Linked DNA regions of Homo sapiens: region 2 is linked to region 1. The links come from fine-mapping of genetic effects on gene expression. A gene starts in region 1. The other region holds a variant in brackets. All regions are shown on one strand. Distances are from middle to middle.

The links. PIP is the estimated chance that this variant, and not a neighbour inherited with it, causes the effect.
Region 2: its variant is fine-mapped to the expression of MYO16-AS1 in whole blood (INTERVAL, PIP above 0.99). The same link has a PIP of 0.9 or more in neutrophils.

The regions. Positions count from the first base shown.
Region 1 is chr13:109,163,692-109,171,691 of GRCh38, forward strand. MYO16-AS1 (MYO16 antisense RNA 1) reads right to left here and starts at 3,612. Exons shown (of 3, transcript NR_047700.1): 1 at 3,328-3,612; 2 at 2,945-3,019; 3 at 214-400. MYO16 (myosin XVI) reads left to right here. Exons shown (of 35, transcript NM_001198950.3): 33 at 1,210-1,368.
Region 2 is chr13:109,258,828-109,275,047 of GRCh38, forward strand. It overlaps LINC03061 (long intergenic non-protein coding RNA 3061), which reads left to right and starts at 6,660. Exons shown (of 2, transcript NR_185883.1): 1 at 6,660-6,840; 2 at 8,784-12,248. It overlaps LOC130494219 (a long non-coding RNA gene), which reads left to right and starts at 13,376. Exons shown (of 2, transcript NR_185888.1): 1 at 13,376-13,592. RefSeq lists enhancers at 8,444-9,402, 11,920-12,648. The variant C/T (reference allele first, on the strand shown) is at 8,116.

The DNA of each region.
Region 1 (8,000 bases):
TAATGAAAAATAAAGACTGAATAATAATCAGAACATACAGGTTAAAGTTCCATTCTATCTCTTTCCAACTGCATGACTCTGAGTAACCCTAATTCCTTCTTCAGCAAAATAAGGATAACATCTCTGCCTATGGAGGTACCGGTGATTGGGATTGGGGTGGTAATACACCGTTCTGCCATATTTAAAGTATAATAAAGCAAATGATGTGTGTTGTCCCATTCAAATAATTTATTAGTCTAAATCTTTAGAAAAGCCTAACTTTAAGACAGTCAGAATCAACTGTGTCCCAACAGAAAAGAACCAAAGTCTCACGCATATCCTTGATGCTGAATCAAAAGTCTCCAATAGGTTGCAGCTTTTTTGAGGTTCCTTAGGAAGCAAGAGCCAATCCCAGGTGCACCTGTGAAGTCAGAGAAAGGGAACTTGGCAGAGGTGGTGATGGGGGGATGTCTGGCCCCTTGATGGCAGTTGTGCCTGATTTGCAAAGTCTGATTTTGTGCCTAAGGGTAATGCAGTGACCATGGGGAAACCTACCTCCATTGGACATTTTTCCAAATAGAAGCATTTGCTGTGTTTCACTTTATTAATATTACATCACTTTAAAAAGTCTTCATCAGGCCCTTCAGTGGAATTTGGACAGTGGCTTTCGTGTTCGTACCTCTCAAAACACTTAACATAGGACAAGCATTACATATTTAAGTAATTATCTTAGTGTGCAGAATGCGGAAGTCGAGTATTGAAGTTCAGTATTCCAACATGGACACTAAAAGTGTTTATAGTGATGTTGAAAATATCACTATAGTGTTTCTTATCACTCAAGTGTTTCTTATTTTTTCCAAAGCTGTAAGATTGCCTTAATTTATTTAAATGTAATCATTCAGAAAACTCCTGAAACATGAACTCATTGCTTTCTCATGACAGGCAATACTATAATGACAAGTTATTTGATCTATGACATCAAAAATTCTTTATAAATATGTTTGAATGCAACAAATTATTGTTACCACTTGACATTTTCCTTTTTGTTTGACATTGTTGTGGCAAAATTTGGTGAATATTATATAGGCTACAAATTTTATTAAAGATTATTATTATTTTAAATGTCATGAATGTTTGATTTGATGTTTTATTATTTTCTCCAAATGTTTTATTCAGTATATTCAGTACATGTTATCAGAAAATAATTATGTTTTCTAAAATTTATTTTAGGTTTTGAAACTAACATGAACATAAGTAGCCGAGATGACCCTAGTACGTCAGAAATTACTTCCGAGACTCAAGACAGAAATGCAAATAACCATGGAATTCAGTTATCTAATTCACTATCTAGTGCTATAACTGCTGAAAATGGAAATTCCATCTCAAATGGTAAGCACTTTTTAAACTCAGAAGTAAATGTACAAAAGTTTTAGGCTGTATCAACTTTCTGGGAGGAATGGATTTAAAATATGAAAATGAAGTAGGGTTAAGAACTGGAAAATAGAATATAAACCATGAAACTCCCCTGCAAGTATTATTGTCAGCATATGATTGCTTCAGTTAAAGAATTGGAATTCTATTCACTCCTTGTTGACTTTTCCGAAATTTTATGGAGTGTTAATCTAAAAGAACTGGTCCAAAATTAGTCTTATACTGAGCAGAAGAAGGCAATAGATTCTCTACCAATATTTTTAATTAAAAAATTATTCTGGAAACTAAGAAATGTGAAGGAAAATAATATTAAAGAAATGATAAGTGCCAGACTGGCTTCAGGTATTTTAAGTACATCAATGAGTGCCACATTTAGAAAGTGGCTTGATTGCAGGTACAAAAGCTGAGGATCACGCAAGTATTTTCTCTCACAAATAAAAGAAGACAAAGGCGTCTGGGAATAACTGATGGGAAGACTCAGACCAACTATTCCTGAGGGCCTCCCGCAGGGCTGGGAAAAGCATGTTTGTTTAGTCTAATTAGAGGCGTGGGAGAACCATCATGATGCTGAAATGCTGGGAAGCAGTTGAAGACCTGGGAGTGGGGTGCAAGGTGAGCCGAAGCAAGGAAGCCCACACTTGAAGCTTGGCTCATGGGGACATAAGGGTACCCACATTGTTCAGAGAAGGCAGCTAAGAAGTCAAGTTGTGCTTCTGACTGCCTTCTCAAATTACAGGGCAAGAAACTGAGTCGTGGCCCCACCAAGGCCTTGGGGTGGGGCCTTCAAGTGTTCTTCCCAAGAGTCAGAGTGAACCAGAACCAAGAACCATGTTGAGTTGCCCAGATGTAACCAGGCCTACAGGTACCTGGGAGAAACACGTGTACATTTTCCCCAAAGGGCAGTAATAGCATCCTAGGCTTCAAAACATTCATAGAAACCATTTTTCAAATGCAAAGTCCAACACAGTTAGAAATAACCAGGCATAGGAGCACACAAAATAAGATAAAAAATTAAAAGCAGAGACGGCAGCCAATTGCAATATGTCCACAGGGATTCAAAAGGTTGGAATTCAAAGACACATGCCTTAAAATAAGTATGTTTACTCAGCCCCCCACGAAATAAAACAACGAGAATTTCAGCAGAAATAGGAAACTATAAGGAAATCGTCAAATGGAAATTCTGAAATTGGAAAATGCAGTAATAAAATTGAGTACAACAGAGGATAAAGTTAAATTTAATTAGATATAGTTGTTTAAAAACAAAACAAATAAAAAATAACTGGAGAAGTGGAAGATAACTCAGAAAATCCCCAGAATGAAACAGATTGAAGCAAAAGGGAAGAATGGAAACTCCAGACAATGGTTTAGAGATATAAAGGGCAATGAGGAGGATGATTGAAGTCTTAGGGAAAGAAGAGGGAGCGCATGAGCAGAAGAAAGACTTGGTGAGAAATGTTAGAGCATCTCCCAATGCTGACGAAAGAGCACCAGGAAACAGATTTAAGTTGGCAGATTTTTATAACATTCAACATACATTCTTCACGGGATCCAGCAATCTGACTCCTCAGTATCTTCCCAAGAGAAATGACAGCAGTGTCCACACAAACACCTGTATGCAAATGCATATGGTGACATTATTCATAATCACATAAAACTGGAAATAAATTCAGTGTCTTTCAACTGATGACTGGCTTGTATTAGTGATCCATCACTGTGCAAAATATTACTCCCAAAACTTGGAGGCTTATATAAGAAATGGTTATTATTTCATAGTTTCTGTGGGCCAGGAAGCTGTGTGTGGCTTAGCAGGGTGCCTTTGGTTTAAGGTCCCCCATGAGACAGCAATCAAGCTGTCAGCCAAGACCACAGTCATCTTGAGACTTGAGTGAAGGCTGATCCATTTTCAAGGTCACTCACGTGGCTATTGGCAGGCCACAGAAGGTTCACATCCAAGTCAACTCACATGGGCAGCCTCCCAGCACAGCAGCTCTCCCCACATCCCTGAGCAAGCAATCCAAGAGAGAGCACCCCAGATGGAGGCTGCAGTCTTCACATAACCCAGTCTTGAAAATGACACCCCAGCACTCTGTCACGTTTGATTGAGTCACTAAATCCAGGCCACACTCAATGGGTGGGGAGTCCGTGAGTGCCTGGAGGTGGGCTCACCAGCATCTCACAGGCTGAACTAGCACATGGATGAAGCCTGCAATAAATAAGAGTGATCAACTATAATGAGCATCATAAAAAAAAGGGATGGCTAAAGCATTGTGTTGAGGTTAAAAAAAAAAAATCAAAAGACTAAGTGTGATCCTGCTTATGTAACATTTGGGGAAAAGCAAAGCTGGAGACAGAAAACAGCTGAGTGGTTGCTGGAGGCTGGGCGTAATGGCAGGAGATGAAGTTCAGAAGGACATGTGGTGTTATAGACAACCTGGAGTGCTCATGTCTGCAGATGCACAGATGTGTATGTCTAAAAAAGGTGAATCTCACTGTCTCTAAATTACACCATAATCAATCCAACGTTTGTAAAAATGAAACAGAAACCTTTGCAAAGCCTAAGTAGGATACATAAAACTTTCCTAGGTGTATCATAGTAAAACACCTATAAAATAAAGACCGAGAATTAATTTTAAAAGCAGTTAGAGGTAAAAATATGTACTATCTTCGAAAAGTAGCAACTGAAGTCCAAAGACAATGAAATAACATAGTTAACATGCTCAAATAAAATAACTGCCCCCCAAAAATTCCTGTAATAATGAAAGGGAGTTAAGGATATTTTTAGGAAAAAAAATAAAAATGAAAGGAATTAAACACTGACAGACTCAGAATGCTTAGAGATAAAGGAAAGAATAAAGAATAACTAAAAAGGCAGTAAAATTTGGAGGGGTAAAATAATATTTAATATTATACACTGATAAACCTACCTTGCCAGTTGTAACCTCAAAGGTAACCCCTGAAAGAATATTAGTGGGGTAGATAATATCCAAACTAGTAAAGAGAGAAAAATAAAATCATAAAAAGTCAACTCAAAAGATGCAAAAAGGGGATAAAATAGGAAAAATAGGGCAAGGAGAAAGTTCTGAGACAGTAGATATGAAAACACATGTGAAAATAAACTTTATTTAATTATAATAAACTTTAAAAGGCTTATTTAATGTAAACTTATATGAAAAATGATTAGCAGAATATTTTAAAAACTAAGTTTTCTGAAAACAGTAAAACATAAGGATTCTGAAAGAGTAAATGTAAAGGGATAGAAAAGAAAAAGATACAATGTGCAAATATTAAAAAGCAGCAAAAACAGTGCTCATATATTTGAACGTCAAAAATTACATCTCTAGGCCAGGCGCGGTGGCTCACGCCTGCAATCCCAGCACTTTGGGAGGCCGAGGCAGGCAGATCACCTGAGGTCAGGAGTTCGAGACCAGCCTGGCCAACATGGTGAAACCCCCATCTCTACTAAAAATACAAAAATCAGCTGGGCTTGGTGGTATATGCCTTTAATCCCGGCGACTCGGAAAGCTGAGGTAGGAGAATTGCTTGAACCCAGGAGGCGGAGTTTGCAGTGAGCCCTGATCGCGCCACTGCACTCCAGCCTGGGTGACAGAGCCAGACTTTGTCTAAAAAAATAAGATAAAATAAAATCTCTAAGTAATCAATGTATTCAAGAAGAAATCACAAAATAAATTAAAAAGCAAAATATTTTAACTAATGACAATGCAAATATGACAACAGAACTTTTAGGACATGTCTAATGTCTTTTGTGTATGAGTGGAAGGGGCTCGGGTACAGTGTCGGTATGGTCAATATGTGGCTGTATGGCATCGTGGCCATGGCTGGGCTTTTAGTGTCCACATCAACTGAATAGTATATATTGTCCTGATTAAGTCGTTTCATATGCTTCATTCCATCCCATCCTCCCACCTTGCCACCCTTCTGAGTCTCCAGTGTCTATTATTCCACACTCTGTGCCCAAGTGTACACGTTATTTAGCTCCCACTTATAAGTGAGAACATGTAGCATTTTTCTTTCTGTGTCTTAGTTATTTCACCTAAGATAATGGCCTCCAGTTCCATCCATGTTACTGCAAAAGATCTCTTAAGAAATGGAAATGTATGGCTTCAAACCTTTGCATCACAAGAGAACAAATACGATGAGTGTTAAAAGGGTCTAGAAATTAGAAACAGAACAAAAACTAAATACTATGAAAATGGAAGGAAAGATATGATAGTGATAATAAGAACATAAGTTATTGAAATATAAAACAAATAAAATAATGTGAAGGGATAGAAAGGAAGGAAAGAGAAAGTTGTTTATCTTTTAAAAAATTATCTTTGAAAACAATAAGATTGAAAATTTTCTTGCAAGGGGATAGAGAAATAGAGAAAATTGGCACAAATAACAGATTTTAGATTGAAAAGGGGACATCAATACAGATCTGGCTGAAATTAAAAATAGTAAGAGAATATTACAAACAGTTTTACACCAAGATAAATTTACAAATTTACATAAACAAATACATTCTTAAAAAAAAAAGAACTAACGAAAATGGACAAAAGAAGTAGGAAAGCTAAATAACACCGTAAATGTTAAATTAATGGAATTTGTAATTGAATGCCTTCCTACAAGGAAAATTCCAGAATCAGATGGTTTCTCCACTAAATGTTTCCAAAATTCTAAGGATTAAATAACTCCAATGTCACGTACACGCTTTCAGAGAATAGGAAGGAAGGAGAAAGAAAATAATATTACTCCAGCTTGCATAATTAGCCACTTAATTTATGACAAAATTGGCATGTGAGAGCACTGGGGAAGAATAATTGATTGCTATCCATGTGGAGCAAACAGTGAAACTCGACTCTGCCTAATGCTATACACACAACAATTCCTGATAGATTATAGATCTGTATGTCAAATGTCAAATCATAAAATGGATAGAAGAAACAATAGGAGAGTATCTTTCTTACTTCATAAAAGGAAAGAAGGGCTTGTTAAGCAAGACACAAAAGTTTTAACCATAAAGAAAAAAGAAAAAAAAAAACATAAATAGGGAGAAAATATTTTTAACACATTTACCCAACAAAGGCTAATATTCAACGTTTATTTAAATTAAAAACAAAAGACAGCTGAAAAGAAAATTGGACAGAATATGTGAATACCACTTAGAAAAACAATTTTAATGGAGTCCAACCTCATTAGTAACTAGAGAAATGTAACTGAAGACTCCAGGGCAATACTACTACACACACTCTAGAATTACAGACCCGCCTGAAAAGGAAGAGGTGCTCGGAGAACGGACTGCCACAAAGTGAGGATGGCAATTTCATTTGGAGGGGAAGGCCAGTAGCGATTTGGAGAGATGACTACAGGAGCTTCCGCAGAGCTGCCAGTGTTCTATTTCTTTATTTTATTTGTGTGGTTGTTACAATTCTGCAATTTAAAAAAAAAAGGAGGAAGAAAGAGATGGAGAAAGGGAACTTCTCTTCACCAAAATATTTAAGTTTTCTGTGTTTTGAGGCAAAAGGCAAAAACTACAGCTTCGGAAATGATCCTAAAAAACTTAATAATAATAATAATAAAAACGGCAAGTCATACTCTAAATATCAAAACATAACCAAAAACCAAGGAAACAAGCAGAAACCCTCTAGACCAAAATGGAGATGTTTGTGAAATAGGATCCATGAAATTAATAATATAAATTCTTTAGGAGTATCAGGGTTCTAAACTTCAGCATGTAACACATAGTGTGTACGGCCAAAGCCTGCAACACAGATTTCTGTGTTCTCCCTTAACACACTTACAATTTTTAAAATAAAGTTGGTTCTATGCTGTCATTAAGTAAAAACCACTTGAAAATCTCAAGAGTTATGCGTGCAAAAGGAAAATTATTTCAATTGGAAATTCAATCTTTCAAAGCAACTTGACACATTTATGCTGATCTACTCTTGTGAGCGCCATGAATTTCTGGGGGCCTGGAACTTTCCCCATGATTTTTAAAACATCCAGCACAATACCCTTTATACTTAGGCCCTGAGTAAGCATTTGCTGATTGAAACAATGTTGTTTGTTACGGAGGAACCAGTAAATCCCATACAGAGGGCAGAGTCAGAAAAACTGCCTCGTCAGTATTATAGAAATTGAACAAACATTACACATGTGCAGAATGTGATGTATACATGAGCATGATAACTCTTAAAGCAATTATTAGTACAGGTTCATAACTTACAAAGTGCAGCCAATGCACTTTCTAAATAAGGGCACAAGATGAAAATAAATGTTTAAAATAACTTAAAGTTCTAATTGAATCAGAAACAGTGTTATTTTCTAGGAAACATTTCTCTTTTGAATGCCAGTATCTGCATGCTACCTCTGCTTCCCAGAAATAATTATCTGTTTGTTCATTTGTTGAAATATAGTTATGTGTGCGTAATTATAGCTATCACTTACTTTAATTGCCATCCTTTTACTGATGCGAGCGCAGACTTGGATCTTTTTTTTGTATATTTAATTATTCCCTGGACTTGTGGTTATTTATCATTAGATTAGAGAGCAGTTTTTAGTGTTAGAACATTTTAGCTTTATCAAACAAA
Region 2 (16,220 bases), 99 kb after region 1:
TCTTGATAGTTGTTCTGTACCCTACACAAGTTCAGGTTACTATTCAGACAAAGACTCAGGGAAAACTCTGAGTAGATTCTGAAGCTCCTTCTCTGCTTGGCCCTTCCTCTCTAGTACCCTGCCCCAAAAATTTCAACTGTGCATTTCCTGTGCAAGTACCTTTATTCTCAGTCTTTCTGAACTTTGATCTCTATCACCTCATCTCAGTGAGACTCCAAGTTCTGCTTAGGCTGCCTCTTCAGGGGCCTTGGTCCAGAAGCACTATCCAGGCAGAAAGCCAAGGCATCCAGGGCCCACCACATTAGTTTTTTCCTGCCATGGATTATATTCCTATGCTGCCTTTTGTTTAATGTCTAAAAACCATTTCTTTTTCAGTTTCTCTAGCTCTTTATGTCCGGAGGACTAGTTCAGTACCAGTTACTACATTTTAGCCAGAACCAGAAGCCCACTGGAGATCTTAGGAAAAGAATTTTGAGTGGATTTAGGCATAAATGAAAGAAAGTAATGAGCCAGCACATATAAGCAACTCTTCAACAAAGGGACAGAGGTAGACTGAACAGTGACTTGTGCAGAGATCTTCATCCAAATTATTGCTATTTTGTTATTTATGACTTAATCTCAATAGTATTTCTTAATGTTTGACTCTATGTGGCTAATAACTGTGTCTACTTTGGTTAGTCTTGTATCTTCAGTTAACACAATTCCCATAACACTGGCCCATAACTGGGACTTAAAAATACTTAAAAAAATACTTGCTGAATAAATAAATAAATAACAAATAAATGAATGAATGACTGGAAGAACCAGTCTCCATTTTCCAAATGCTTAAAAGTGTAATGTTATGTGAATATAACACTTGTATGTCATATTACCTGGAAATTTTATTTCTTTATCAAGCCTCCTTTAAAAACAATTTACTTTGTTTTCTAGTGGAATGTGTCCTACTTGAATCTAGAACATGACCCTTTTGCGAAATTGGTTGTCATTTTGTGAACTTTGAGGAATGCCAACCAGGAAGGAACAGTTTGCATTATGAGAAATTTGAGTAGGTACACCAATCAGATGACAGCCATACTTCAGAAACACATCTTAAAATAAATGAATAGCTCTACCTGGCCAAACATAACCTCAACAAATGACTGTTCCAGGCATCTTAACAACATACATGAGAAAAAATGAATTCAGACTTAGCATACAAAATAACTAAAATGTTTTTACCTGCAAGACATATTTTGTAAGTGAAGGCAAGTAGCTTTTGCCTTTACTGGCTGATACCAGATTACTAATTAATCACGTGAGATATTGCTAGATCAGACTTCTAACGAGTGACTTTCAGAGTCTGACGATGAAAAAGTTAAAATCTTTAGTGATGCTTTCTGCACGTATTGTCTTCTTCTCAAGAGACAATTGAGGATTTATAGGTTCTGTTAGAATGAGAAGTTTTCTCAATTCAACATATTGTGATACTTATTCTCCCTAATTTTGTGATGCCATATTCCTCCTCTACACTAGCAAAATAAGAGGAAACTAAAGCAAAATAGCTGGAGAAAAACAGACAATCTCATACATTGATAGAAATACAAAATGACCTTATCTTATAAAAAGGGAATTTGGAAATGTGTAACAGGATGACTTAAGCATTTATCTTTGACCCAGCAATCTCATTTCCAGAGATCTATCCTAAAAGTACATGGCAAAAATATGAAAAATAGAGGTGTGCAACTATATTCCTTGCAGCATTATGACTAATAGAAAGGGTGCAAGAACAATGTTTTCCAATATTTCAATAAACTATGCTATGTCCTCACAACAGAGTACTATAGAGCTGTACAAATAAAAGATGAATACTTCTAGAAGCTTCAATGTGTAGAATATTTAACTAAGAAGAGTATGTGTGTATATATACATATATATCTACAGAAAACATGTTTTATTTTAATAACTTAAAAAATTTGTACCTACAGAGGGTTAAATACATACAAGAGAAAGGAATAGAAGCAAGTCTTCCCTGAGTATACATTGTTTTGTACATTTGACAAATAACTCATGTAAATGCTTAACATTATATTAAATAAAATTAAAATTACAAAGGCCATTCTTAAAATCAAAAGCAAATAAAAAATAATGAACCTGTTTATCAGGTTAGTAGCATATTCACAAAAAGACAAAAATTTCAAGTAACTTTAAAGAATATTGATTTACTATACCCCCTATTGGGTTAGATACTAAAGACCTGAAGAACAATCTTCAACTCTTTTCAATAATCACATTATTTGTGACAGAAGTGATATAACTATTCTGAGAATATGTCATTATTTTCTGTATGTAATGAGTAATTATCGTGAGATAAATCAAATGAACTATTATCATTGAGGATTGGCGTTTTCACCATGAAAGGAATGAGATACGGATGTAAGGTTGATGAGATGAATAATAACCTGTAGTCTTAAATTGTATTTAAAATTAGTAATCAATATGAATTCACATTGTATATCATCTTTATGAATACATTGTGTGTGGGCATGTGCGTGTGTGTTTCTTAGCTTTGTCCTCTAGAAAAGTCTAGAAACAGTGACTAACTCGGTAGCAATTAGCACCTCTAGCACAAAGATCATGGTCTCTAAATATGATTTCCCACTGCAAGGAACCAGAATTCCTTGGTGAAATAATTGCTTTCAGCTTGAGAAAGAAAATGTTAAAGATGAGTCTGAAATGTCTGTTCTTCCCAGACAGTAAGAAGCTAACAAAGTCTATTGAAATCGTGAGCAAATAATTCAACAGCCACATTCAAGAGTTTTTCATTAGCCAATGGAGGGCAAATTTGGCCACAAATAAGATTAACAAATGAAATAAATTACATTAAGCATGTAAATTCATGTGTTTATAATAATACTGTAATAGTCTGTTCTCATGCTCCTAATAAAGACATACCCAAGATGAGGTTATTTATAAAGAAGAGAGGTTTAATGGACTCACAGTTGCACATGGCTGAGAAGGCCTCACAATCATGGCAGAAGGCAAAGGAGAAGCAAAGGCACGTCTTACCTGGTGGCAGGCAAGAGGGCATGTGCAGGGGAACTCCCCTTTATAAAACCATCAGATGTCATGAGACTTACTATCACTAGAAGAGCATGGGAAAAACTTGCCCCCAAGATTCAATTAACTCCCACAAGGTCACTCCCACAATGTGTGGGGATTATTATAATTCAAGATAAGATTTGGTTGGTGACACAGAGCCAAACCATATCAAATACTTAAGTCAAATTTCAGTGATCATCTTCAGAGAGTGAAAGGAAAACAATTTATTGTTTTGAAAACTAGTGGATAAGAGGATATAACCAAGAACTTACATTGCTTTTCCTATAATAATTCTACCTCAAAGTAAACATATAATATACAATGGAAAGGCATTGTTTGTAGATACACTACAGACAATAAATTTAAAAGAAATGATCACATTAAGACATCACCATTTTGTAACTCTCTTTTTTTTATGTATTTAGTCAGATTAGTCATCTACCTTTACAAAGAAAAGAGATGGCTAGACAATGTACACCTCCTAATAACAAATATAATTCTGCCTACAAGTATTTTTGAATACAGAGTAAAATACAGTAAATAAAACCCAAATCCTACTAAAAGTTTAGGTTTACTAGTTTATAAGAAATTCAGGTTTCAAAGGAATTACACAACACAATCTGGACTGTAAAAATTTCTTTAGGACAAACAACCTGTTTCTTCGACCAATAAAATGCAAGGAAAAAGCCAACAAGTTCTATATCTTAAAAGAGGTTTAGGCCAGGCACGGTGGCTCATGCCTGTAATCACAGCACTTTGGGAGGCAGAGGCAGGTGGATCACAAGTTCAGGAGATCGAGACCATCCTGGCTAACATGGTGAAAACTCATCTCTACTAAAAATACAAAAAATTAGCCAGGTGTGGTGGCAGGCACCTGTAGTCCCAGCTACTTGGGAGGCTGAGGCAGGAGAATGGTGTGAACCCGGGAGGTGGAGCTTGCAGTGAGCCAAGATCGCGCCACTGCACTCCAGCCTGGGCAACAGAGCGAGACTCCATCTCAAAAAAAAAAAAAAAAAAGAGGTTTAAAAGATAAATCAATCAACTGCAAGGTATAGATCTCTTTGGGACTTCTGAGTCAGGCAAATTGTAAAAGAAGAAAAGAGAATCAGGAAAATTAGAACACTTAGTAGATATGTAATAGTATTAAGGGGCTGGGCTTAGTGGTTCATGCCTGTAATCGCAGCATTTTGGGAGGCCAAGGCAGGCGGATCACTTGAGGTCAGGAGTTCAAAACCAGCCTGAGCAACATAGTGAAACCCCATTTCTACCAAAAATACAAAAATTAGCCAACCGTGTGGTGCACACCTATAATCCTATCTACTTGGGAGGCTGAGACAGGAGAATCACTTGAACCTGGGAAGCAGAGGTTGCAGTGAGCCAAGAGTGCCCCCACTGCACTCTAACTTGGGCAACAAAGCAAGACTTCAACTTTAAAAAAAAATAGTATTAAGTAATAATTTTTTTTTTTTTTTTGAGACAGAGTCTTGCACTGTCGCCCAGACTGTCATGCAGTGGCAAGATCTCAGCTCACTGCAACCTCTGCCTTCCTGGTCCAAGCGATTCTCTTGCCTCAGCCTCCCTAGTAACGGGAATTACAGGCACCCACCACCACACCTGGCTAATTTTTTGTATTTTTAGTAGAGTGGGGTATCATTATGTTGGCCAGGCTGGTCTCAAATGCCTGACCTCATGATCCACCTGCCTTGGCCTCCCAAAGTGCTGGGATTACAGGCATGAGCCACTGTGCCCTGCCTAAGGAATAATTTTTAATTTTTAAGTATGATAATCATATGGAAATTAACCTTTTGAAAGAGGTCTAAACTTTCAGAGATGTATATTGAAATATTTATGGAGGAAATGATATGATGTCTGGGATTTGCTTCAAAATATTTGGTGAGGGACAGGGTGCAAGATAGGATTATAGAGGACGCAAGACTTGAACTTTCACCCTATTTGGTTGTACTTTCTGAAGTTCTATGGACTAGATAGTCACACAGGGGTTAAGCTGTGTGTTGTGGCTCATGCCTGTAATCCCAGATAAAGGAACAGAAAGGCCTATATGGAAACATTTGAACACCTAGTCAGGCTAATAATTTAGTTCCTCAGAATAAATATATTTGTGAAATGTATATTAAGAGAAGCTAAGCACTGAACAGGGAAGAACAGAATGGAGGAATTAAAAGACCACCGAGTCAGTGCTTTGATCACCTTATTGTCCTAAACCCTTGATATCCCCACACTCATATGCCCACTCAGCTGAATAAAGCCCATGAAGTTACCAGAATATTTAACTATTATATATTATTTCCCAAGCGTTCCCCTTGAAGGAATCACTCCCAGAACCAACCAAGGGGCTTATCAAGATATAATTCCCAATCATGTACACTAAGTCATCTTTCAAAGATAACTTGTGGAGAATACAATTTCTTCATCTAATCCAGGGGGCTTTGGCATTTCTCACCAACTCCCCTCACTGGCAACTGCCTCCCTTCACATGGCTTCAGAGAATTTTCCTGCTAACAGAGATTGCTCAGGAAATAGCTATAAACACCTATTATCTCCCTTCCCAGAGCTTTCTTTAACAATAAGACCCTTCCCTTGGCCATCATTTCCATCATTATTTTGACTTCTCCCTTGTCCCTTAAGTCCAATTAGCTGATTGGAAACCTTCCCACATAATCTGCCATTCTTGCTTCCTTTCCATTCCCAATGCCACTGGATTTGGCTGGACCCCATAGTGAGCGAGGAAGTAAAAAGAGAATAGCTAGGCAGATAGCTAGGTCAAAATTCCTCAGTAGAACTTCCTTTCTCACAAAAAGCAGCCCAAGAAAACACGTGTCTCCTAACAAAGAGCAGCCTGGAAGATTGTGCTGCAAACATAGATAAGGAAGCTGGAAGCTTGCAGCTGGGAGCTGCCGCACTAGAAAGGGGTACCTGGGGCCAGTCATGTGCACCATGAGGGCTCCGCCTCCCACTTTTTTTTTTCTTTTTCTTTTTTTTGCACCTGCACAGTAGGAAAGCAACATGGAGTAGCTCAGGCAAAGGACCCGCCTCCATAATAAAAGGCTGGGATGGGGGCTGCCAGAGATTCGCACTCTATGCTGATGGTACACCTGGTCTTAACTGTTTTTTCACACCCTATGTAGGTAAAATACTGCCTCCCCACTAGGTCACTTATAAAAACTGTCAGGCCTCTGAGCCCAAGCCAAGCCATCGCATCCCCTGTGACTTGCACGTATACGCCCAGATGGCCTGAAGTAACTGAAGAATCACAAAAGAACTGAAAAGGCCCTGCCCCGCCTTAACTGATGACATTCCACCATGGTGATTTGTTCTTGCCCCACCTTAACTGAGTGATTAACCCTGTGAATTTCCTTCTCCTGGCTCAGCAGCTCCCCCACTGAGCACCTTGTGACCCCCGCCCCTGCCCACCAGAGAACAACCCCCTTTGACTGTAATTTTCCATTACCTTCCCAAATCCTATAAAACGGCCCCACCCCATCTCCCTTCGCTGACTCTCTTTTCGGACTCAGCCCGCCTGCCCCCAGGTGAAATAAACAGCCATGTTGCTCACACAAAGCCTGTTTGGTGTCTCTTCACATGGACTCGAGTGAACTTTGATGCCGTGGCTCGGATCGGGGGACCTCCCTTAGGAGATCAATCCCCCGTCCTCCTGCTCTTTGCTCCATGAGAAAGATCCACCTACGACCTTAGGTCCTCAGACCAACCAGCCCAAGAAACATCTCACCAATTTTAAATCCAGTAAGCCGCCTCTTTTTACTCTCTTCTCCAACCTCCCTCACTATCCCTCAACCTCTTTCTCCTTTCAATCTTGGCGCCACACTTCAATCTCTCCCTTCTCTTAGTTTCAATTCCTTTCATTTTCTGGTAGAGACAAAGGAGACACGTTTTATCTGTGGACCCAAAACTCCAGCGCTGGTCACGGACTGGGAAGGCAGCCTTCCCTTGCTGTTTAATCATTGCAGGGACACCTCTCTGATTATTCACCCACGTTTCAAGGGTGTCAGACCATGCAGGGATGCCTGCCTTGGTCCTTCACCCTTAGCGGCAAGTCCCGCTTTTCTGGGGAAGGGGAAAGTACCCCAACCCCTTCTCTCTGTGTCTCTACCCGTTCTCTGCTTTTCTGGGGAAGGGGCAAGTACCCCAACCCCTTCTCTCTGTGTCTCTACCCCTTCCCTGCTTTTCTGGGGAAGGGGCAAGTACCCCAACCCCTTCTCTTCTTGTCTCTACCCCTTCTCTGATTTTCTGGGGCAGGGGCAAGAACCCCTCAACCCCTTCTCCTTCACCCTTAGTGGCAAGTCCCACTTTTCTGGGGGAGGGGAAAGTACCCCTCAACCCCTTCTCCTTCACCCTTAGTGGCAAGTCCCGCTTTTCTAGGGGGCAAGAACCCCCAATCCCTTATTTCCACACCCCGACCTCTTATTTCTGTGACCCAATCCCTTATTTCCACACCCCAACCTCTTATCTCTGTGCCCCAATCCCTTATTTCCATGCCCCAACCCCCCTTCCCACTTTTCTAGGGGGCAAGAACCCCCAATCCCTTATTTCCACACCCTGACCTCTTATCTCTGTGCCCCAATCCCTTATTTCTGTGCCCCAACCCTTTCTCTGCTTTTCTGGAGGGCAAGAAACCCCCACCCCTTCTCCGTGTCTCTACTCTTTTCTCTGGGCTTGCCTCCTTCACTATGGGCAAGCTTCCACCTTCCATTCCTCCTTCTTCTCCCTTAGCCTGTATTCTTAAGAACTTAAAACCTCTTCAACTCTCACCTGACCTAAAATCTAAGTGTCTCATTTTCTTCTGCAATGCCTCTTGACCCCAATACAAACTCTACAGTAGTTCCAAATAGCCGGAAAACGGCACTTTCAATTTTTCCATCCTACAAGATCTAAATAATTCTTGTCATAAAATGGGCAAATGGTCTGAGGTGCCTGACATCCAGGCATTCTTTTACACATCAGTCCCTTCCTAGTCTCTGTGCCCAGTGCAACTCATTCTGAATCTTCCTTCTTTCCCTC[C/T]CGCCTGTCCCCTCAGTCCCAACCCCAAGCGTCACTGAGTCTTTCTAATCTTCCTTTTCTACAGACCCATCTGACCTCTCCCCTCCTTGCCAGGCCAAGCTAGGTCCCAATTCTTCCTCAGCCTCCGCTCCTCCACCCTGTAATCTTTTTATCGCCTCCCCTCCTCACACCTGGTCTGGCTTACAGTTTCGTTCTGTGACTAGCCCTCCCCCACCTGCCCAGCAATTTACTCTTAAAAAGGTGGCTGGAGCCAAAGGCATAGTCAAGGTTAATGCTCCTTTTTCTTTATCCCAAATCAGAAGCGTTTAGGCTCTTTTTCATCAAATATAAAAACCCAGCCCAGTTCATGTCTCGTTCGGCAGCAACCCTGAGATGCTTTACAGCCCTAGACCCTAAAAGGTCAAAAGGCCATCTTATTCTCAATACACATTTTATTACCCAATCTGCTCCCGACATTAAATAAAACTCCAAAAATTAGAATCTGGCCCTCAAACCCCACAACAGGACTTAATTAACCTCACCTTCAAGGTGTACAATAATAAAAAAAAGGAAGTTGCAATTCCTTGCCTCCACTGTGAGACAAACCCCAGCCACATCTCCAGCACACAACAACTTCCAAATGCCTGAACCGCAGTGGCCAGACATTCCTCCAGAACCTCCTCCCCCAGGAGCTTGCTGCAAGTGCCAGAAATCTGACCACCAGGGCAAGGAATGCCTGCAGCCCAGGGATTCCTCCTAAGCCATGTCCCATCTGTGCGGGACCCCACTGGAAATCGGACTGTTCAACTCACCTGGCAGCCACTCCCAGCGCCCCTGGAACTCTGGCCCAAGGCTCTCTGACTGACTCCTTCTTGGCTTAGTGGCTGAAGACTGACGCTGCCTGATCGCCTCAGAAGCCCTGTAGACCACCATGGACACCGAGCTTTAGGTAACTCTCACAGTGGAGGGTAAGTCTGTCCCCTTCTTAATCAATATGGAGGCTACCCACTCCACATTACCTTCTTTTCAAGGGCCTGTTTCCCTTGCCTCCATAACTGTTGTGGGTATTGACAGCCAGGCTTCTAAACCTCTTAAAACTCCCCAACTCTGGTGCCAACTTGAACAACACTCTTTTATGCACTCTTTTTTAGTTATCTCCACCTGCCCAGTTCCCTTATCAGGCCGAGATATTTTAACCAAATTATCTGCTTCCCTGACTATTCCTGGACTACAGCTGCATCTCATTGCTGCCCTTCTTCCCAATCCAAAGCCTCCTTTGCGTCCTCCTCTTGTATTCCCCCACCTTAACCCACAAGTATAAGATACCTCTACTCCCTCCTTGGCGACCGATCATGCACCCCTTACCATCTCATTAAAACCTAATCACGCTTACCCGACTCAATGCCAATATCCCATCCCACAGCATGCTTTGAAAGGATTAAAGCCTGTTATCACTCACCTGCTACAGCATGGCCTTTTAAAGCCTATAAACTCTCCTTACAATTCCCCCGTTTTACCTGTCCTAAAACCAGACAAGGCTTACAACTTAGTTCAGAATCTGTGCCTTATCAACCAAATTGTTTTGCCTATCCACCCCGTGGTGCCAAACCCATATACTCTCCTATCCTCAATACCTCCCTCTACTACCCATTATTCTGTTCTGGATCTCAAACATGCTTTCTTTACTATTCCTTTGCACTCTTCATCTCAGCCTCTCTTTGCCTTCACTTAGACTGACCCTGACACCCATTAGGCTCAGCAGCTTACCTGGGCTGTGCTGCCGCAAGGTTCCAGGGACAGCCCTCATTACTTCAGCCAAGCTCTTTCTCATGATCTACTTTCTTTCCACCCCTCCACTTCTCACCTTATTCAATATATTGATGACCTTCTTCTTTGTAGCCCCTCCTTTGAATCTTCTCAACAAGACATACTTCTGCTCCTTCAGCATTTATTCTCCAAAGGATATCGGGTATCCCCCTCCAAAGCTCAAATTTCTTCTCCATCCGTTACCTACCTCGGCATAATTCTTCACAAAAACACAGGTGCTCTCCCTGCTGATGGTGTCTGATTAATCTCCCAAACCTCAATCCCTTACAAAACAACAACTCCTTTCCTTCCTAGGCATGGTTAGTGCGGTCAGAATTCTTACACAAGAGCCAGGACCCCACCCTGTAGCCTTTCTGTCCAAACAACTTGACCTTACTGTTTTAGCCTAGCCCTCATGTCTGCATGCAGCAGCTGCCGCTGCTTTAATAATTTTAGAGGCCCTAAAAATCACAAACTATGTTCAACTCACTCTCTACATTTCTCATAACTTCCAAAATCTATTTTCTTCCTCATACCTGACGCATATACTTTCTGCTCCCCGGCTCCTTCAGCTGTACTCATTCTTTGTTAAGTCCCACAATTACCATTGTTCCTGGCCCAGACTTCAATCTGGCCTCCCACATTATTCCTGATACCACACCTGATCCCCATGACTGCATCTCTCTGATCCACCTGACATTCACCCCATTTCCCCATATTACAAGCCACTAGCCCATCTCTTAGAACCTCTCATTTCCTTTCCATTGTAGAAATCTATCCTCAAGGAAATAACTTCTCAGTGTTCCATCTGCTATTCTATCTGCTATTCTGCTACTCCTCAAGGATCATTCAGGCCCCTCCCTTCCCTACACATCAAGCTCGAGGATTTGCCCCCGCCCAGGACTGGCAAATTAGCTTTACTCCACATGCCCCGAGTCACAAAAACTAAAATACCTCTTAGTCTAAGTAGACATTTTCACTAGATAGGTAGAGGCCTTTCCTACAGGGTCTGAGAAGGCCACCGCAGTCATTTCTTCCCTTCTGTCAGACATAATTCCTCAGTTTAGCCTTCCCACCTCTATACAGTCTGATAACAGACCAGGCTTTATTAGTCAAATTAGCCAAGCAGTTTTTCAGTTTATATCCCTTATAGTCCTCTGTCTTCAAGAAAAGTAGAACGGACTAAAGGTCTTTTAAAAACACACCTCACCAAGCTCAGCCACCAACTTAAAAAGAACTGGACAATACTTTTACCACTTTCCCTTCTCAGAAGTCAGACCTGTCCTCAGAATGCTACAAGGTACAGTCCATTTAAGCTCCTTTTTATTAGGCCCCAGTCTCATCCCAGACACCAGACCAACTTAGACTGTGCCCCCAAAAAAACTTGTCATCCCTACTATTTTCCGTCTAGTCATACTCCTATTCTCCGTTCTCAACTACTCATACATGCCCTGCTCTTGTTTACACTGCCAGTTTACACTGTTTCTCCAAGCCATCATGGCTGATATCTCCTCATGCTATCCCCAAACTGCCACTCTTAACTCTTGAAGTAAATAAATAATCTTCGCTGGAAGGACTATGCTGAACCTCCTTAGGCATTCTCTAATTAGATGTCCTAGATCCTCCCAATTCTTAGTCCTTTTATACCTGTTTTTCTCCTTCTCTTATTCCATTTAGTTTTTCAGTTCATACAAAACCGTATCCAGGCCATCACCAATCTTTCTGTATGACAAATGTTTCTTCTAACAACCCCCTCAATGTCACCCCTTACCACAAGACCTCCCTTCAGCTTAATCTCTCCCACTCTAGGTTCCCACGCCGCCCCTAATCCCGCTTGAAGCAGCCCTGAGAAACATCGCCCATTCTCTCTCCATACCACCCCCCAAAAATTTTCACCGCCCCAACACTTCAACACAATTTTGTTTTATTTTTCTTATTAATATAAGAAGGCAGGAATGTCAGGCCTCTGAGCCCAAGCCAAGCCATCGCATCCCCTGTGACTTGCACGTATACGCCCAGATGGCCTGAAGTAACTGAAGAATCACAAAAGAACTGAAAAGGCCCTGCCCCGCCTTAACTGATGACATTCCACCATGGTGATTTGTTCTTGCCCCACCTTAACTGAGTGATTAACCCTGTGAATTTCCTTCTCCTGGCTCAGAAGCTCCCCCACTGAGCACCTTGTGACCCCCGCCCCTGCCCACCAGAGAACAACCCCCTTTGACTGTAATTTTCCATTACCTTCCCAAATCCTATAAAACGGCCCCACCCCTATCTCCCTTCGCTGACTCTCTTTTCGGACTCAGCCCGCCTGCCCCCAGGTGAAATAAACAGCCATGTTGCTCACACAAAGCCTGTTTGGTGTCTCTTCACACGGACGCGCATGAAAAAAACCCTTTCATTTTACTGTGGGACGGCAACCCTTTCTGGGACCCCTCTCTGCAGCAGAGAACTGTTCTCTTTCTTTCACCTGTTAAACTTCTGCTTCTGCTCTGACCTCGTCCTTGGTGTGTCTGCATCGTCGATTTCCTCAGCTGTGAGACCAACGACTTGGGCACCCACCCAGGCAACAAGGCCTTTTCAGTAAGGGAAGTGGTAAAATGTTTTCAATCCCTGTTGCCAAAAATCGGCCTAAGGCTTCCCAAAAAAAGTAACCCAAAGCAGACATGGCAAATATTTGCTACATTTGATAATAAGCCAATAAATTATCTGCTAATAAGTGACTGAAATATTTAGCACACATCTGCCTTATTCTGATGACTGATCACATTTCTAGCTCCCCTGTGGACTAAAACAATATGCTTTCCTTCTCTACACAAGCAATGCTTTCTGCAGAGACACAAACTTTACATCTGAATACAAATGCAGCACGTTTTAATTCTGCCTCTCATTCTCCAGCAAAATCATGGGGAAGAAGGAAAACATCCTTAGTCAAAAGGGGTACAGGGACTTAGAACCTCACCATGCTGCAGTCACACAGGCAATAGAGAAAGATGGCGGTGGTTCCCTGGGGCAGTTCCCCTCTCAAGCAAGGAGACAGGGGCAGCACTCCTACCATCTCCCCAGGGATATAGGAGTTAAGAAGGAATTGCTTAGGCAGATAGCAAGGGCATGGGAGTCCTGGGTAAGGCTTTTCTTTTTAATGAAAAGCAGCCCCAAGTCATTTTCTAACAAAGAGCAGCCTGCAAGCTGGGAGCTTGCATAGGTGAATGCCAGCAGGAACTAAGGACTAGACATTTTCAAACTGGTGGCTCCATCTTCCCTTCCCTGCCAGCCAAGTGTATTGTAAGGAGCAGAGAAGATGGCTCTGATCAACTGGAAAGCCTATTTGCATAATTAGATTAGGGTGGGGCAACCAGCCTTCCCCCGCACACTATGTAGACGTCATACCTGATGGAACCAGTCTGTGAGCCCTATGTAAATCAGACACCGCCTTCTCCAACTTATTATATCTGTTTTGGTCCACTGCCTCCCCACTTTTCAGATGTCTCTCTCTCTCTCTCTCTCTAAGAGCTGCTCTCCTCTCTCCTTTCTTCTATCTATTAAATTTTCCACTCCCTAACCCACCCACATGTGATTGTGTCCTGAATTCTTGGTGTGTGACGATGAACCCCAGGGTGTATACCCCAGACAGCACAGCCACTTCACCAGCAGGGACAGCAGCTGTCACATGAACTGGAGATGAACTGGAGGTGAGTCTGATGTCTCGGAATTTTGAGGAAAGTGGGTAGAAAGTTGCCAAGCAAGCTGAAGAGACAAGCAAAAGGGATCATATTCCAGAAGAATTCTTAGCAAGACCACAGTCAGAACTTCAATCAAGGTGATTGATTGGTCTGAAAGGGGGAATAGAATGTAAATAAAATACAACCATGAGAAACCACATGTATGTTGTTGAACCTTATCTAGACACTAACTGTGAAAAAGCCAGCTTGGATTATTGATGAACGACATTCAGAAAACCACAATTTTGCCATGCTTATTTAGAGAACAGAGACAGTGGTATTATCAGCCTATAGCTCAATTGTAAAATTGGGATGACTAGATGTCCCGAGACTATTCTGTTCCTCGGCCCTCTCGACACTCACCTAAGAAGCTTCCAAATTTACCACTTCTCAGTCATTGTAAGGATGCTGCATGTCATAAGGATGATTATGGAAGATTATGGGCATGTTCTACATAGAGAACAAGAAAAGTCACAATATTTTCTTTTATAAATTTATATTTTGGAATTTATATTAGTTCCCCTAACTCTAAATAACCATGGGAATATTGACAAATTTGATTTTCCAGAACTTTAAAGCTGAGGCTAGACACTAACCACAGTGACTTTATCTATGTAGTAGCACACTCTACCAGCTGGGATGTCTGGATAACAAGTTCCCCAGATTGCAGCCTCCCTCCAGCACCAAGTAGGATTACGAGTCTGTTTGGTTTCATTTTAGCTATGTAGATTTGTCAAATTTTGTCACCTCTGGACTTCAGTTTTCTCATATGTAAAATGATGCATTGGCCTGAATGTTTTCGGAGAACCTTCAATCTCTGTGAGTCTCTTCACTGAAAAAATTGTTGACTTTCTTTTTTTTATTGTTCTGTTTTTCTTTTCTATGTCAAAAAAGCACTATGGTAAAAGTCTTTCAGTAAAACTTGAACCTTGGGGCTTGTTCCTGAGTTTGACATGTTAAACAAATGAAAGAACTGTTTTCAACTGATTAGTCATATCCTTCAATTCCTACGGGAATATGGGTTCGTTGTGCATGAGAAAGTCAGCCAACTTTGGCATGAAGATGTCTTTCAGGTAGGTAGGCCACCTGTGATGAAGTGAATCATTGAAGAAAGTCTATTTTCTTGTGGCATAAATACAAGCCTGAAGATTACACATAAGCTGTCATACACGTACCTCCTAAATGCAATTCCTCAGAAGTGACATGCTATCATCATTCACATTAATGTCTATTTGTGCAACTACATTGTTTAAAATAATCAACCAATTCATCACAATAGATATTTGGGAGGAGTGAGGGAGCTTTCTCTGTACTAATGAAAGAAATGACATTTCTGTTTACCATTTGTCAGTTTTAAGTAGTTAATAAATATCTGAAATGATTTTCATATTTTGATATGGTATTCACTTGTAAGGATATGCAATTTTTAAGAGTTATGGTGAGAATGTTTCTTCCATAACATTCAGCTTTGAAAAGTTTTAGGAAACTATTCATTATGTCTCAAAAGTTAAATGCACGACAAATGAAATGCCTCTTATTGGTTGCAATTTTCTAAAAGTAAGTAATGCCTATTACTTTGATATTTAACTCAAATATATTAACAATAATTGAAAGCTTTTGAGTGCTACAGGTTGATAATAAACCTGAAAGTATAGAATAATCATCTGTATTTTAAAATTTTTATTCTTAAGGCCAACAAAACAAAGTAAGAATTATGTCAGTGTTTCTAACTGTCCTACCCAGATCTAGCTCCTGACTGATAATTGTCAACAGAGTCAAACACGCCTTCCTAAGGCCAGCTCCACTTCTCCAAAGCAAGCTCCTCTCACTTTGCCACCCAGAAGCCACACTGGAACCTGGAATCTAAAGAATGTGTTTGCATTATCAAAGAACTCTCCCTCTCCTAAAGGGTCCACCCTGGGATTCCATTCTAGTGACTTGACAAAATGCTTCTAATTACTCCTTAGTTAGTTCCCATAATCCGCTTAAGGACTTGTTTACTTGTTGACAGGCAGGGTAGGAATTCAGCCTTGACAGTCTGTGTCAGTGCAACATCATAAATAAGATAAACATTATCTGAAGTGATCACAATGTTCTTGAACATCTGTGCAACATCATAAATAAGATAAACATTATCTGAAGTGATCACAATGTTCTTGAACATCTGAGCCGGACAGAATCAAGCCTGCGTCATCTTCCTTCTGATTTTCCAAATGAGCACACAGGAGAGGCCACTCTAAAGTCACCCTGGGAATGTGTCTGCCTCCAGCCCCATTCACGGCCCCTGGCACTGGCTTGTCATGAGATGGTGTTCAATGAATGCTTGTGGAATTGAATGAACACAATGTGGATTTACACCCTTTCCTGTCAAATAGCTAGTTCTAAAAAATACAGACCTGCACTTCAGCCATGCAATGCCTTTTAAGATGTTTCATACTCTGATGCAGAGGAAGATGTCTCTTGCCATTACAGAACCACACCGAGAAAGATCAAACAAAATCACACCAAGAAAATTCATGTGCAGATCATCTCATTTGCAATTATTGCAGCATGCACCAAGTCCAACACATTTCACCCACACTTTATCAGCAAAAAAGA